4 separate regions of the Homo sapiens genome follow, and all the other regions are reported to be linked to region 4. Evidence: microRNA targets listed by miRTarBase, many of them from high-throughput screens and not tested one by one. Region 4 holds a microRNA gene; each other region holds the end of a gene's coding sequence.

Region 1 (3,078 bases), not on the chromosome of region 4:
TCTCTCAACGCTACAGTCCGGTATTCATCCCTTTTGACTGTCTTTTCCGAAGCTAACAGTTGATACCACTTGTCCTCCTTTTGCAGATCCCGACTGGATTAAGAGGTTACTGCAAAGCCCCTGCCCTTTCTGTGATTCTCCTGTCTTCTAAATAATCAGTGACGGGAAGATGGAAGGGCATGATGAACTCTGCCATAGAAAACTTCCTCCAGCCTGAAGAGAAGGATGCACTGGAGGAAGCCGGACCCTCACGAGTGGAGAGAAGTCCTTGGTGATTGTAAAGAGGGCCCCTGGAGCTCATTTCTGAATCGCACTCTCCATTTCCAGAGACTAAAGGATGTCCTTTGAAATGGCTGGACTCAGAGAGTTGGAGTCGTTTTGAGATGAGCATTAGCCCCAGCTTTGTAACCAATGAGGAACACTTACTTATTTTTAAGTATCTTGACAGAAGCAATTTGAACACAGTGTCCCGTCATTTCTAGAAACAGAATGGTCTCTTCTAGAGAGCTTGGATAAGGACCTTGCTGGGTTGAGTTAGGTTTTAATCCTTGCTTTGGTTTGGAACTGCCTTCGGGCTCCAGAACTTAAATTGCTTGGTCCGTGGCATCTGATGTACCAACAGAGATTAAAAGTGTAAAGCAACACATGGGCTGATGTTTTGTTCTCAGAAAATAGCTGCTGGTCTGCATCCCTCCATTCTTGTTTTTTATGCATATGGAAAACATTTTCCTAAAACTCTATATTCTTAAGTTGAAGCCAAGACTAAAATTTAATGTGTCAAATGATCTGGTGACTATTATAATGAATAATTGTGACTTATTTTTCATTCTCTCCTGGGTCATCAGGTTTCCTGACCCAACTCCTTAATCCGTATAAAGATGTCAAATACTGTAGTTCACCCACGCCACAGCCCTGCTTCAGACTTAACTGTGGTAGCCTAGATGAGCTATTTGTACACAGAGGAAAAAAAGATATTTTCCTCTTTTAGTAATAAGACTTTCAGTATTTTTAATGTTGACATTTCCAGATGTTTCATTTAGTATCCAGGGGTCTGTCTGGAGACTTCTAGAGAGGGACAGCTCAGAAGTGAGACCCTTGAGCTCTGGTGCTGTAAGCTTGTGCAATTAAGTTGAACAGAGCCTGGGAATTTCTTTCCTCTGCACAGTCCCTTGATATTTGGAATCCAGGTTCTGCCCCCAACCCCTACCCACCCAGTGGTCTGTTAAGATGTCTCAGATGGGGCTGGGCTTGGTGGCTCATGCCTGTACTCTCAACACTTTGGGAAGCAAAGGCAGGCAGATCACAAGGTCAGGAGTTCAGCCTAACCAACATGGTGAAACCGTGTCTCTACTAAAAATACAAAAATTAGCCAGGCGTGGTGGTGCACACCTGTAATCCCAGCACTTTGGGAGGCCGAGGCAGACGGGTCACTTGAGGCCAGGAGTTCGAGACCAGCCTGGGCAATATGGCGAGACTCCGTCTCTACTACAAATACAAAAGTTAGCCTGGCATGGTGGCGCATGCCTGTAATCTCAGTTACTCAGGAGGCTGAGGCAGGAGCATCACTTCAACCCAGGAGGCAGAAGCTGCAGTCAGCCGAGGTGGCACCACTGCACTTCAGCCTGGGCAAGACTGGAGACTGCCTCAAAAAAAAAAGAAAAAAAATGTTGGTACTTAGATGATACCATGACGGCAACCTCCCCACCCCCACCCCGCATTGATAGGTAGTGCAGACCAGCCCTTGGAGGCACTTCTAAACAGTCTGCTCAGAAATGTTTTCTGTTTCCTATTCAAATTGCTGTTTTGTCTCCTATGTTTAATCATGTATTTGCTATTCTGCTTATTTTTCTCATTTGGTGGTAATTTCAAGAAGAGCGTTTATCCACTATTGATTTTCAAGAAAGAAACCAAGCAGCATTGAAATCATGAGTAACAGAATTCAGAACATTGTATGGTGGAAGTCATTTGTGTCTGCAGCTGTTTTTTCACTTTACAATAAATAAGAGTAAAAATTGAGATCATGTCAAAAAATTATTGCAGTTTTAATCATTATGGCATAGTTTCACTTCCCCTCCCCCCATTAGAATCAGTGGAGATTTGTTCTTACTAGGGAATTTTGGACTGCTGCCATTTAAAACTTAGGTTTTTATTTAAAGCAGTTGTGCATTTTTGAGAAAATGTATTGGGAGTAACTAGAGAGGATCTCCCAAATTTTTTTGTATGTCTCTCTAGGAGTAAACATGGCAACAGTTTTTCTAGAACGTGGACTCACTGCAGGGACTGGACCCAATGGCATTGTTAAGACCCTAAAATCTAGCCACCACCTGCCTCCCCCAGGTTTCCACACACCCAGTTGGAAGGCCTTTCCCTGCCCTTGTCCCTGTCTCACACCCATGGAGGTTAAGCTACAGAGCTGGGGAAACAGGAGATTTTGAGTTAATGGCAGCCTCACAAATAGTGCTTCTGAATTTCTCTGAGGGTCAGCATACCTCATGGGAGTGTGTTGCTCAGTGCAACCTTGGAAAAGTGGGAATGGCACCAGACGTTTTTCAGGTGCCTCTTGCAATTCAAACTTACATCCTCTATACCGTCCTAAAATTTGCCTGATCTTATTTGGTAGATTTCAAGTTGCTTTCAGCTGTGACCGTAATAACTGTTTCAGGAACTGGAGAAATAGTGGAAGTGCTATTGCCGCGCTGCATGTAAAGCACAGGAGCAAAGATTCGATACAATTAGACCCTTTAAGCTACAACGTGGTTGCATTTGGGGAGTCTGATACCCACATAGGTATCACATTTTCTCTGCCTGGGGTTAATTTGTTCTTATTATTCTAGGTAAGAAATTGATAGCTTGTTATGCTTGGTACTCATTCTGAAATCCCTGTGTGTCCACCAGGCAGACTTCAAGCAATCTCTACCTACTATTATATCTGCCAAAACTACCAATTATTTTTCAATGTCAGAAGTTATTAGAGCCACTGGCAAAGCTCATGGTTGAATATGACATTTTTCTGCTTTTCCCTCTAAGAAGTTTTTGAGAATGTTAATGTTGAAGTATGCAGGCTGGACCTACCAGCAA
Region 2 (3,093 bases), not on the chromosome of region 4:
GTGAGCGGAGATCACGCCACTGCACTCCAGCCTGGTGACAGAGTGAGACTGTCTCAAAAAAAAAAAAGAAAAGAAAAAAAAAGAAACAGCAATTTAATAAATGTCATTTTTTGACATTGAATATTAATAGGTCAATGAGAAAATATTTCTTAATTATATTAGTTGTGTGCCCAGCATTGCCAATATACTATTAAATTTAATTCTATCCAAAGGATTAATATTTGCTACCTAAATTAAAATAGTTAATTGTGTTATGTTTTGTGTTTTCTCAACAGATTGGATTCTTCAAAAGACCACTGAAAAAGAAAATGGAGAAATGAAATATTTTATGAAAGAAAATAATAACAATTATTCAATAATCTATCCTCAGGTTTGCCTCAAATATGTGACAAGAAATGTATAATTCATGACATAGTCATGTAACTATGTAATCCATCAGGGATTCATTACTTGGAAAATGACAGGTCATGCATTATCCAAAAACAATACCAAAAAGACATATTTTATAAAATGACAAAAAATATTTTACATAATTACTCATTTTTGTTGAGTAAGCAAAATTACAAAGTGTTTTTAAAAAAACCTGTACAAATATGTTTATGTATTAAATCACCATCCAAAATATTTAAGGAATATATAAAAAGATTTTTATGATCATAGAAACATCTATTTTCAAAACAATATAAATTAAGCTTTTCCCCTTGATTCCTGTTGGATATCCATGTTCAGCATGACAGTCAGCACTCGTAAATGCCAAGAAAAGAATTACCTGAAAAAGATCATTTCTCCCTATTCAAATGAGAATATTTTCCCTTGGTAGAATCCATATACAATATGGATTGAAAATTAAGTCACCAAGAATACATTTAGCATCTTTGTGTTGGGTTCTATACCTAAAAATTTTCCCTCCCTGCCCAAGGTGATTGGAAAGTACTGCAATTGAGCTAAAATTTTATCTAGGATGGAAAATCAGGATAGACTCGTTTAAAAACAAGTATATTAAATGGGTTAAATTAAGCTTTTACAGAACATGCTTAATTTTGATATTGAGCTCTAAATGCAAAACTCTTTTATACTGAAAAAACACTTAAAGTAGTTTTGTGTGGCATCACAGTGATTTGTCATGAAAAGCCATATATGGGGGACATGCTAAAATGGCTTCTGAATGAAATACGACAGCAGAGAAAGATGCCACTGAAATGCTGAAATTATCTTTGCTGAGCAGCTTTTGAATGCTAAGGGTTCCAGTATGTGACCCAAAGAAAGAGTTGTCTCAACTCCTTGGTACAGGGTTCATTCAAACCCCCAAGCTGTGAGAGTGTGTTTATTTTTAATTTTTTAAAAGGTATTTAATTTCCAACCACACTTCTTATTTTTTTGAAAAGACAATTTTCCATTTCAGTATTACATTTTACCAAGAAGTCACTGCTTTTTAGGTGTGTTGCATCAATATTTAAATAAAATCCCAGAAATGTATTTTAAAGAATTTCAGGTTTGAAAACTCAAACCAACAGGAAGATATCACACCTTTGTATGTGCTTCTTTGTTCTTGAAGTAGTCATTATGGTTCATTGGAATCTACTGTAGCATAAGCTCCTAGGTTGCTCCATTTCTTAGGAAAATAGCAATGAATGAATGTATAGTAGCTGCATGTGTGAACTACTGCTGTAAAGTTTGCTGACATTTCTGCAACAACATTTCTCCATCTGATTTACCAGAACCTGTAACAAGACCAGAACATGTATTCATCCAGAAACTCCTGGGCTCTGCTTTGTTCAAAGAGGAGCAAATCCACATAGAAATTAAATGTTATAAATTTATTTTTTTAAACTAATTTCCAAAGAATTTAGCTGAAGACTCAGAGTCAGCCTACCTCTTGACTCTCCACATCCGCATCTAAGATCCTGAAGGCCAAAGGAATGCGCCTGTGGGATGCCAAAGCCATCAGTAGCTGGAAGAAAGAATACCTCTTTCTAGAGGTTTGGTGTCCTCTTGCTGGCCTGTCATTATTTGGAAATACGCGCTTTTGGAATTTCCTTCATTTTCGCTATTTCCAGGTTCAGAAATCATACCTACCACTTGTTCTTTCTTTGCCCAGTAAAACTCAGGGTTTCTCTTATTCAGAGTTACCATGTTGCACACCCCCAGTGCTCAGCCTGCCCAGAAGCCCTTCTCTGATCTCAGCAAGATCTTAGTAGTAAAGCTAACGGATCCATTGAAATTCATACTCAGCATCTGTGACTACTAGACAAAGCCCATTTACTGAACCATAAGTGTGCACTTTTAAACTAAATTGTTAACTGAAAGGGAAAAAATAGAAATGAGGGCATTTTGAAGTTTTTAGAAAAGAGAGGAAGAGCTGTTGGCCAGATCAAAGAGATACTTATAAGCCCGGCACAATTTTTAACATAAGTCATTCCTGGCTATTAAGTAAAATATTTCATGAACCAGAAGTCCTGTTTCTCTAATATTATAATTTGTTGAGGTTTGTGTGTGTGTGTGTGTGCATGTGCAGACACATGTACACATATAAATTGAATACAAAAATAGCTCTATAACACCAAAAAACAGAGTTTACAGAAAATAAACACAAAAGCTATATCTGCAAGACAAGTTTGATTCATCTAGTTTCATATAGTTTCATATAGTTTCATTTTTATTAATATTTAGGTTTAACTTATAGTTCTGCAATTATTTAAAAAACAAGTACAGAGCGTTTGATTAAAAAAAGTCAACAAATGTTTCAAAACAGCTTTGTACAAATGTTATAAAACATATTTAATGATTAAGAAATGTACTAGACTCTATCATTTACTTTTAAAACATTTAATTAGAAAAACAGGTGATATTTAAGACTATTTATAAACTTATTGGCCAAATTGCCAAAAAGTTTCTTTTTCTCTAACTTTGGTATTCTAAATAATTGATTATTGCTCCCATTGTAAACTGAACCATGTATGCACTCTCTTTTCTGACCAAACTACAATGGTATATTGGTAAATTATTTAACAACACACTGTCCAGGAGGGAAAAAAAAAACAGTCTCTGATTTGTATCATTTGCCAATTTCCATGGTCCAAATATTCTCTCTCC
Region 3 (3,093 bases), not on the chromosome of region 4:
GGTGATGACCTACCAGAACGCCCGCATGTGGTGGTACTTTGGCTGCTACTTCTGCCTGCCCATCCTCTTCACAGTCACCTGCCAGCTGGTGACATGGCGGGTGCGAGGCCCTCCAGGGAGGAAGTCAGAGTGCAGGGCCAGCAAGCACGAGCAGTGTGAGAGCCAGCTCAACAGCACCGTGGTGGGCCTGACCGTGGTCTACGCCTTCTGCACCCTCCCAGAGAACGTCTGCAACATCGTGGTGGCCTACCTCTCCACCGAGCTGACCCGCCAGACCCTGGACCTCCTGGGCCTCATCAACCAGTTCTCCACCTTCTTCAAGGGCGCCATCACCCCAGTGCTGCTCCTTTGCATCTGCAGGCCGCTGGGCCAGGCCTTCCTGGACTGCTGCTGCTGCTGCTGCTGTGAGGAGTGCGGCGGGGCTTCGGAGGCCTCTGCTGCCAATGGGTCGGACAACAAGCTCAAGACCGAGGTGTCCTCTTCCATCTACTTCCACAAGCCCAGGGAGTCACCCCCACTCCTGCCCCTGGGCACACCTTGCTGAGGCCCCAGTAGGGGTGGGGAGGGAGGGAGAGGCCGCCACCCCCGCCGGTGTCTGCTGTTCTTTCCCCATAGGTCTTGCTTTGTTGCCTGTCTTGCTGTCTAGGGATGGACTTGGTTCCTCTTGTCAAGGTTTGGGAATGTCAAAGCCCCCTCCCCACACAGGGCCTTTCCTGTCCCTTGTGGGGCCTTCCAACCCTGTCCTTTCCACTGGTGGGCGGTGATGCTTCTAGGTCCTTAGAACTGCCCAGAAACTCTGAGTCCCAGCAGCTGGGAGCCAGAACTTTGCCTGCCCTCCCTTGGTTCCAGTCTCTCTTCTCTCTCTCTGCCTTGGAACCTGACCATACTTTAGTTGTGCCCTTCCCAGGCATCATCCTCCTACCACCAACCTGGGGCCCCATCTTGGAATGGGGGCTCCTTGGGGCCAGCCCAGTGTGGCTCACCACACTCTTCTTTTTTTTTTTTTTTTTTTTTGAGATGGAGTCTTGCTCTGTTGCCCAGGCTGGAGTACATTTGCCTGATGTCAGCTCCCTGCAACCTCCGCCTCCTGGGTTCAAGCGATTCTCCTGCCTCAGCCTCCTGAGTAGCTGGGATTACAGGTGTGCACCAACACACCCGGCTAATTTTTGTATTTGTAGAAGAGGCGGGGTTTCACCATGTTGGCCAGGCTGGTGTTGAACTCCTGACCTCAAGTGATCTGCCTGCCTTGGCCTCCCAAAGTGCTGGGATTACAGGTGTGAGCTGCCACGCCCAGCCCCAGTACACTCTTCTCTGGACCAGATCTGTCCCAGTCCTGGATGCCTCCTCCTACTGGTGCCTTCTTTTCTTCCAGAGGATTTCTCTCTCCTTCCTCCTCCTTTCTTTGGGATCCCTGGGTTGCCCTGTCCCAACCTCCTTGTTAGGTGCTTTCCCATAGGAGGCCCTTCTTGAGAAACAATAAACTAGGTAGAACTACCCCTATGCCCATCCACTTTCTTGTGCCACATTCTGGCAGGGCCCAGATGCAGCTGGGCCTTCCTGGCCTGGCAGTGCCTAGGAGAATTTCTCCTGACCTGGCCTGGCCTGTGGCTGATGTTCAGAACAGCCTTGTGGCCGATGTTCAGAACAGCCTTGTGGCCCTGGCGACTCCAAGGGTTTTATGGCTTTTGAGGGACAGAGAGGATGGAGGGCTTGGGGAGCCGGAGGACCTAAGTCCTCATCCTGGCCTAAACCCCATGCTCCTTGGGAAGTCAAAAGCCTGGAAAATATCTCCTCTGGAGCCTTCATCTCTGCTATGCCCTCTCTCCACAAAGCCCCCCTTGGAGGGAGTCCAGTGGTCTTTCCTCTGTGAGCCCCAGGGCTTCCCAGCCTTTGTCACTCTGAGAGCTGCTCTTGTTCAGTTTCTTAGAATGGACTGTTTTGCCTGTAGACGGCCCAGCTGCCTGCCCTGGCCTGCCCCCACCCAGCCCCCACTGCACCACCCTTCCCGCCAGAGCTCCCACTGCCCCCGGCAGACCCTTCATGCAGCTTCTCCTGTGGGGTCTTGCCCTTGAAGTGCCACTTCCCCCAGCCCCACCTCTGGTCCCTTCCAGAGGGCACCCTTAGCCTTGTAGGTCCCTGGGAAGCTGGCACAGCATCAACCAGAAGTGATGCCTCAGCCAGGCCACCAGTCGCTCCCCGCCTGGGAGCTCAGCTTTCCTCAGAACCACCCCCCCTGTCTGAAGCTCTGTCCTGGGTCCCACCAGACTTCTGCCCACCAGGCCTACCTACAGCATCCACATGGGGCCTCAGGAAGGGCCCCGGGGGCCCAGGGATGGGCAGGGGCAGGGTTTCCAAGCGCCTGGGGCTCCATTCTCCTCTGTCCACCCACCCACACCCCTTGGCCTCAGCCTGCCCTGTACCCAAGCTTCCCTCCCCCTCTCCTGGGGATCTTAACGGCCTTGTTCTCTCTCCCTGGCACCCACCCCCAGGGCGGGTGATGCCGCCAAGAGAGAGGGAGGCCGTTGCTAGGTGATGGCGCCGCCATGCACACACCCTTTGTGCTGGGGAGTGACACCCACCCGTTTCTCAGCAGACCTGTTGCCACGGTGACTGAAGCCCCCAGCTCTGTCTGTAGAAACTTCAGATGGGTGGGGGAGCAGGTTGGAGAGGGGACCAAAGGCAGGCCTGTCGTGCTGAAGCTCTTGGGGACCGTTTCCTCGGCATTTCCCCAACTCCTTCTCCACCCCCCTGCCAGGCCCGGAAGTACCACCAGCTTCCTAAGGGATGCAGGAAGGGGCCGGGTGAACTGAGGTGAAGTCCAGGGCAGGGGAGTCAGACCCCTCAACATCCTGTTTAGGGGTCCTCCTCCACAAAGGGTGCCCTCCACCTCTCCCTCCTGCTGGTTGGCCGGCTCAGAGATGAAGGGGGAGAGATGGTGGCTCCAAGGCTCTGCCACCGCCACCTCCCAAGCCTGCCAACGTGAATGGCTTGCAGAATCAGTCAGCAGGCCAGCGGCCTTGGGAAAGAGCCACTGTCCTCGCAGCCTGGGCCAGCTGGGGGAACAATGTAGGGTTTGTTGCTTAGGGGTCCCAG
Region 4 (3,000 bases):
CCAGCGTGAAGCTTCCTGGTCAGGACCACAGAAGGCCTCTCATCTTGGACTTTGACCTCTGAGGGCGCCCCTTTCCTTTCAGGACAGGGCCTCCGTGTTGCTTTGGCCCTGGCCTGTTCCTTTTCTCAAGAGGGCCCCACTGCCCCTGCCCTTGCCACTCTGGCATCCTCGACCTGCCCTGGGCTGGGGCAGGGCCGGCTTCCTGGCTGGTATTTGTAGCCCAGTTCTGAGCTGAAGCTGAAGCCTCCAGGCTGCCTGCACAGGGAGGCAGTGGTGGGGTGGGCTGGCCCTGAGGAAGACGGAGCCCTAGGCCGCTGGGGGAGATGTGCCTGGCTGTGGGGCCTCCAAGAGCAGCCCAGGTTTGGATTTTGTCTGCTTCTCCTCAAGGTCAGCCATGCCCAGCCCGGGGGCTAAAAGCAAAGTGGGTGCCAGGGCAGGCAGAGGCTCTGGAGTGGACGTGGGGCCGGCAGAGGCGCTGGAGTGGACGTGGGGCCGGCAGAGGCGCTGGAGTGGACGTGGGGCCGGCAGAGGCGCTGTAGTGGACGTGGGGCCGGCAGAGGCTCTGCAGTGGACGTGGGGCCGGCAGAGGCGCTGGAGCGGACGTGGGGCAGGCAGAGGCTCTGCAGTGGACGTGGGGCCGGCAGAGGCTCTGGAGCGGACGTGGGGCAGGCAGAGGTGCTAGAATGGACGCTGGGGAAGGCAGGTTGCTGCGGGTGCTAAGAGGCTAGCCTGCCTTGGACAAAAGCGTCGTTCAGAGCTGCTAATCCCCTTCCTCCCATGAGGCTTGGGGAACTTCGAAGTTCTCTGGTGTTGGAGGGGAAGCCAGCCGAGGCCCTGGGACACGGCATCAGCCCGAGCCTATCTGTGGCTGGCCTGGGTATGGCAGGTGGGCACACCTTGGCTGCAGGACACCTTGGCTACAAGGGAGCCTGGCTGACCCTGCAGGGTGAGGGCTGGAGAGGCGGAGCCTGCCTGGCCTAGCAGTGTGGATGCCAAGCCATGGGAAGATGTGTGGAGAGTTTATGGAGCCTGGCCCGGTGTCCCCAACCCAGCTGCTGAGCTGGAAGCCAGGGGTAGGTCCTGGCAGCCCCTCCCTCTCTGCCCTGCCTCTCTCGGAGTCGCTCGGAGCAGTCACGTTGACGGAATCCTCCGGCGCCTCCTCGAGGGAGGAGAGGCAGGGTCTTGGCAACTCCCGTCTCCCCCGTTGCCAGCTTGCCAGCCCCGCCGTGCCTCTCACGCCTGTGGTCTGCCCCAATGACAGGCCGGCTTCGGTGTCCCAAGGGGACCCAGCCCTGAGCGTGGGGCTGCCCTTGGGGGAGGGCAGGGGAAAGCCAGCCCGGGCTGCCACCGTGGCCGCTGGCCTGGGAGCCCCAGGAAACGTGCCCACCCTCAGACCCGATGCCTGGCTCAGGGCCTGGGCTCCGCGGCCCCTCCAGGGCAGGCGTGAAATGTGCCCACACAGCTCCACCTTCCACGTGGTTCCCTGTCCGGGGGCCACTTGCACTGAGGTCCTTCTGGAGTCATTTTCTGTTTTTTTTTTTTTTTTTTTGAGACAGAGTCTTGCTCTGTTGCCCAGGCTGGAGTGCAGTGGTGCTATCTTGGCTCACTGCAACCCCTGCCTCCCGGGTTCAAGTGATTTCCGGCTAATTTTGTATTTTTAGTAGAGATGGGGTTTCGTCAGGTTGGCCAGGCTGGTCTCGAACTCCTGAGCTCGAGTGATCCGCCCGCCTCTGCCTCCCAGAGTGCTGGGATTACAGGCATGAGCCACCGCGCCCGGCTGGGAGTCATTTTCTAGCGTTCCTGTCCCACCTCTCAGGAACAGATTTACCACCTTTGTTGTGAAGAAGCATTTTTTTTTTTTTTCTGCCGCCAGGCTGGAGTGCAGTGGCACAATCTCAACTCCGGCTCACTGCAACCTCCGCCTCCCGGGTTCAAGCGATTCTCCTGCCTCAGCCTCCCCAGTAGCTGGGATTACAGGCACCCGCCACCACGCCTGGCTAATTTTTGTATTTTTAGTAGAGACGGGGTTTCGCCACGTTGGTCAGGTTGGTCTCGATCTCCTGACCTTGTGATCCGCCCGCCTCGGCCTCCCAAAGTGCTGGGATGACAGGCGTGAGCCACCGCACCTGGCTGAAGAAGCACTTTTTTTTATGAACCTCTGCAACCCCCTCTGAGGGAAACCCTCCCGCATTCTGGGATGCCGGGGCTCAGAGGGTGGAGGGTAGAAGAGCGCCAGCCGTGAGAGGCAGGATGGGGCGGCCCCCGAGGGCAGGGCTGTGCCTGGAGGCAGGGCTCCTCGGGGGGTCAGCTCCTGGGCGGTGGGAGTGACCGAGTGGGCTCCTGAGGGAAGCGGCTTTCAGGAAGGAGGCGGAGGCCTGGGAGCTCTTGGGGCCCTGGCAAATGTGGTCTTCAGATTCCCGTCGTCCAGTGAGCCCCTGGATCACGTCCTGAGTGGCGTCCACTGAAGGCTGCTTGGGACCTCTGCTCCCCCCTCCACTGAGACCCCCAGTGGCCAGTTCTAAGTCCCACCTGCCTTGGGCAGGGCCACCACAGGCCCCTTACTGTGGATTAAAGGGCCCTGGGTGAGGGCTTGTGGGAGGGGAGGTGGTGGAAACCATCTCCGAAGACCTTGGGGCGAGCTGCGTGCTGGAGTGGAGAGTGTGGCCCAGCAGGCAGGAGCACTGGGTTGGAATGGGGGCTCTGCCACCTCCGAGGGAGCAGGAGTGGAGACCGGAGGGAGCGTGCCCCTGAATCCGAGCACGGGGAGCTGGCCGGGAGCAGCCCTCCGGGCAGAGGCAGGAGAAATGGGGTCACCTGCCCCAGGGGGTGAGAGGTGAGCCGAGAGGAAGGGCTGAGACCCTCAGGGGCATCCCCAGGATGTTCCTGAAACTCAGCCCTGGAGGACGCTCAGGTGTGCGTGGAGCACCCTCTGCCCTGGAGCCTCAAATCCTCTCCCCGCTGCGGGGCCACTTTGCTGATTCCTGCCCCAAACATGAGGTC

What was found. The annotated mature microRNA hsa-miR-3183 reads GCCUCUCUCGGAGUCGCUCGGA and lies in region 4 at 1,106-1,127, shown strand. An mRNA with a match to its seed (bases 2 to 7 or 8) in the 3' UTR can be bound and repressed. Matches are read on the target gene's strand: a 7mer-m8 pairs with bases 2 to 8, a 7mer-A1 pairs with bases 2 to 7 and ends in A, and an 8mer does both.
Region 1: the mRNA of GTF3C4 is a reported target of hsa-miR-3183. Seed matches in the 3' UTR shown: 7mer-m8 at 1,068-1,074 and 8mer at 2,195-2,202.
Region 2: miRTarBase lists ITGA1 as a target of hsa-miR-3183. Seed matches in the 3' UTR shown: 8mer at 2,348-2,355.
Region 3: miRTarBase lists GPR37L1 as a target of hsa-miR-3183. Seed matches in the 3' UTR shown: 8mer at 1,695-1,702 and 7mer-m8 at 2,509-2,515.

Annotation. Positions count from the first base shown.
Region 1 is chr9:132,688,795-132,691,872 of GRCh38, forward strand. It overlaps GTF3C4 (general transcription factor IIIC subunit 4), which reads left to right. Exons shown (of 5, transcript NM_012204.4): 5 at 87-3,078. The coding sequence ends at 151. Among named protein-coding and RNA genes, the nearest start is that of GTF3C4, 20 kb to the left of the region's middle.
Region 2 is chr5:52,952,132-52,955,224 of GRCh38, forward strand. ITGA1 (integrin subunit alpha 1) reads left to right here. Exons shown (of 29, transcript NM_181501.2): 29 at 276-3,093. The coding sequence ends at 320. The region is part of intron 2 of ITGA2-AS1 (ITGA2 antisense RNA 1); the gene reads right to left. Among named protein-coding and RNA genes, the nearest start is that of ITGA2, 36 kb to the right of the region's middle.
Region 3 is chr1:202,128,013-202,131,105 of GRCh38, forward strand. It overlaps GPR37L1 (G protein-coupled receptor 37 like 1), which reads left to right. Exons shown (of 2, transcript NM_004767.5): 2 at 1-3,093. The coding sequence ends at 544. Among named protein-coding and RNA genes, the nearest start is that of GPR37L1, 6.6 kb to the left of the region's middle. RefSeq lists enhancers at 1,871-2,654, 2,655-3,093.
Region 4 is chr17:1,020,656-1,023,655 of GRCh38, reverse strand. MIR3183 (microRNA 3183) reads left to right here and starts at 1,097; the gene lies at 1,097-1,180. The region is part of intron 16 of ABR (ABR activator of RhoGEF and GTPase); the gene reads left to right.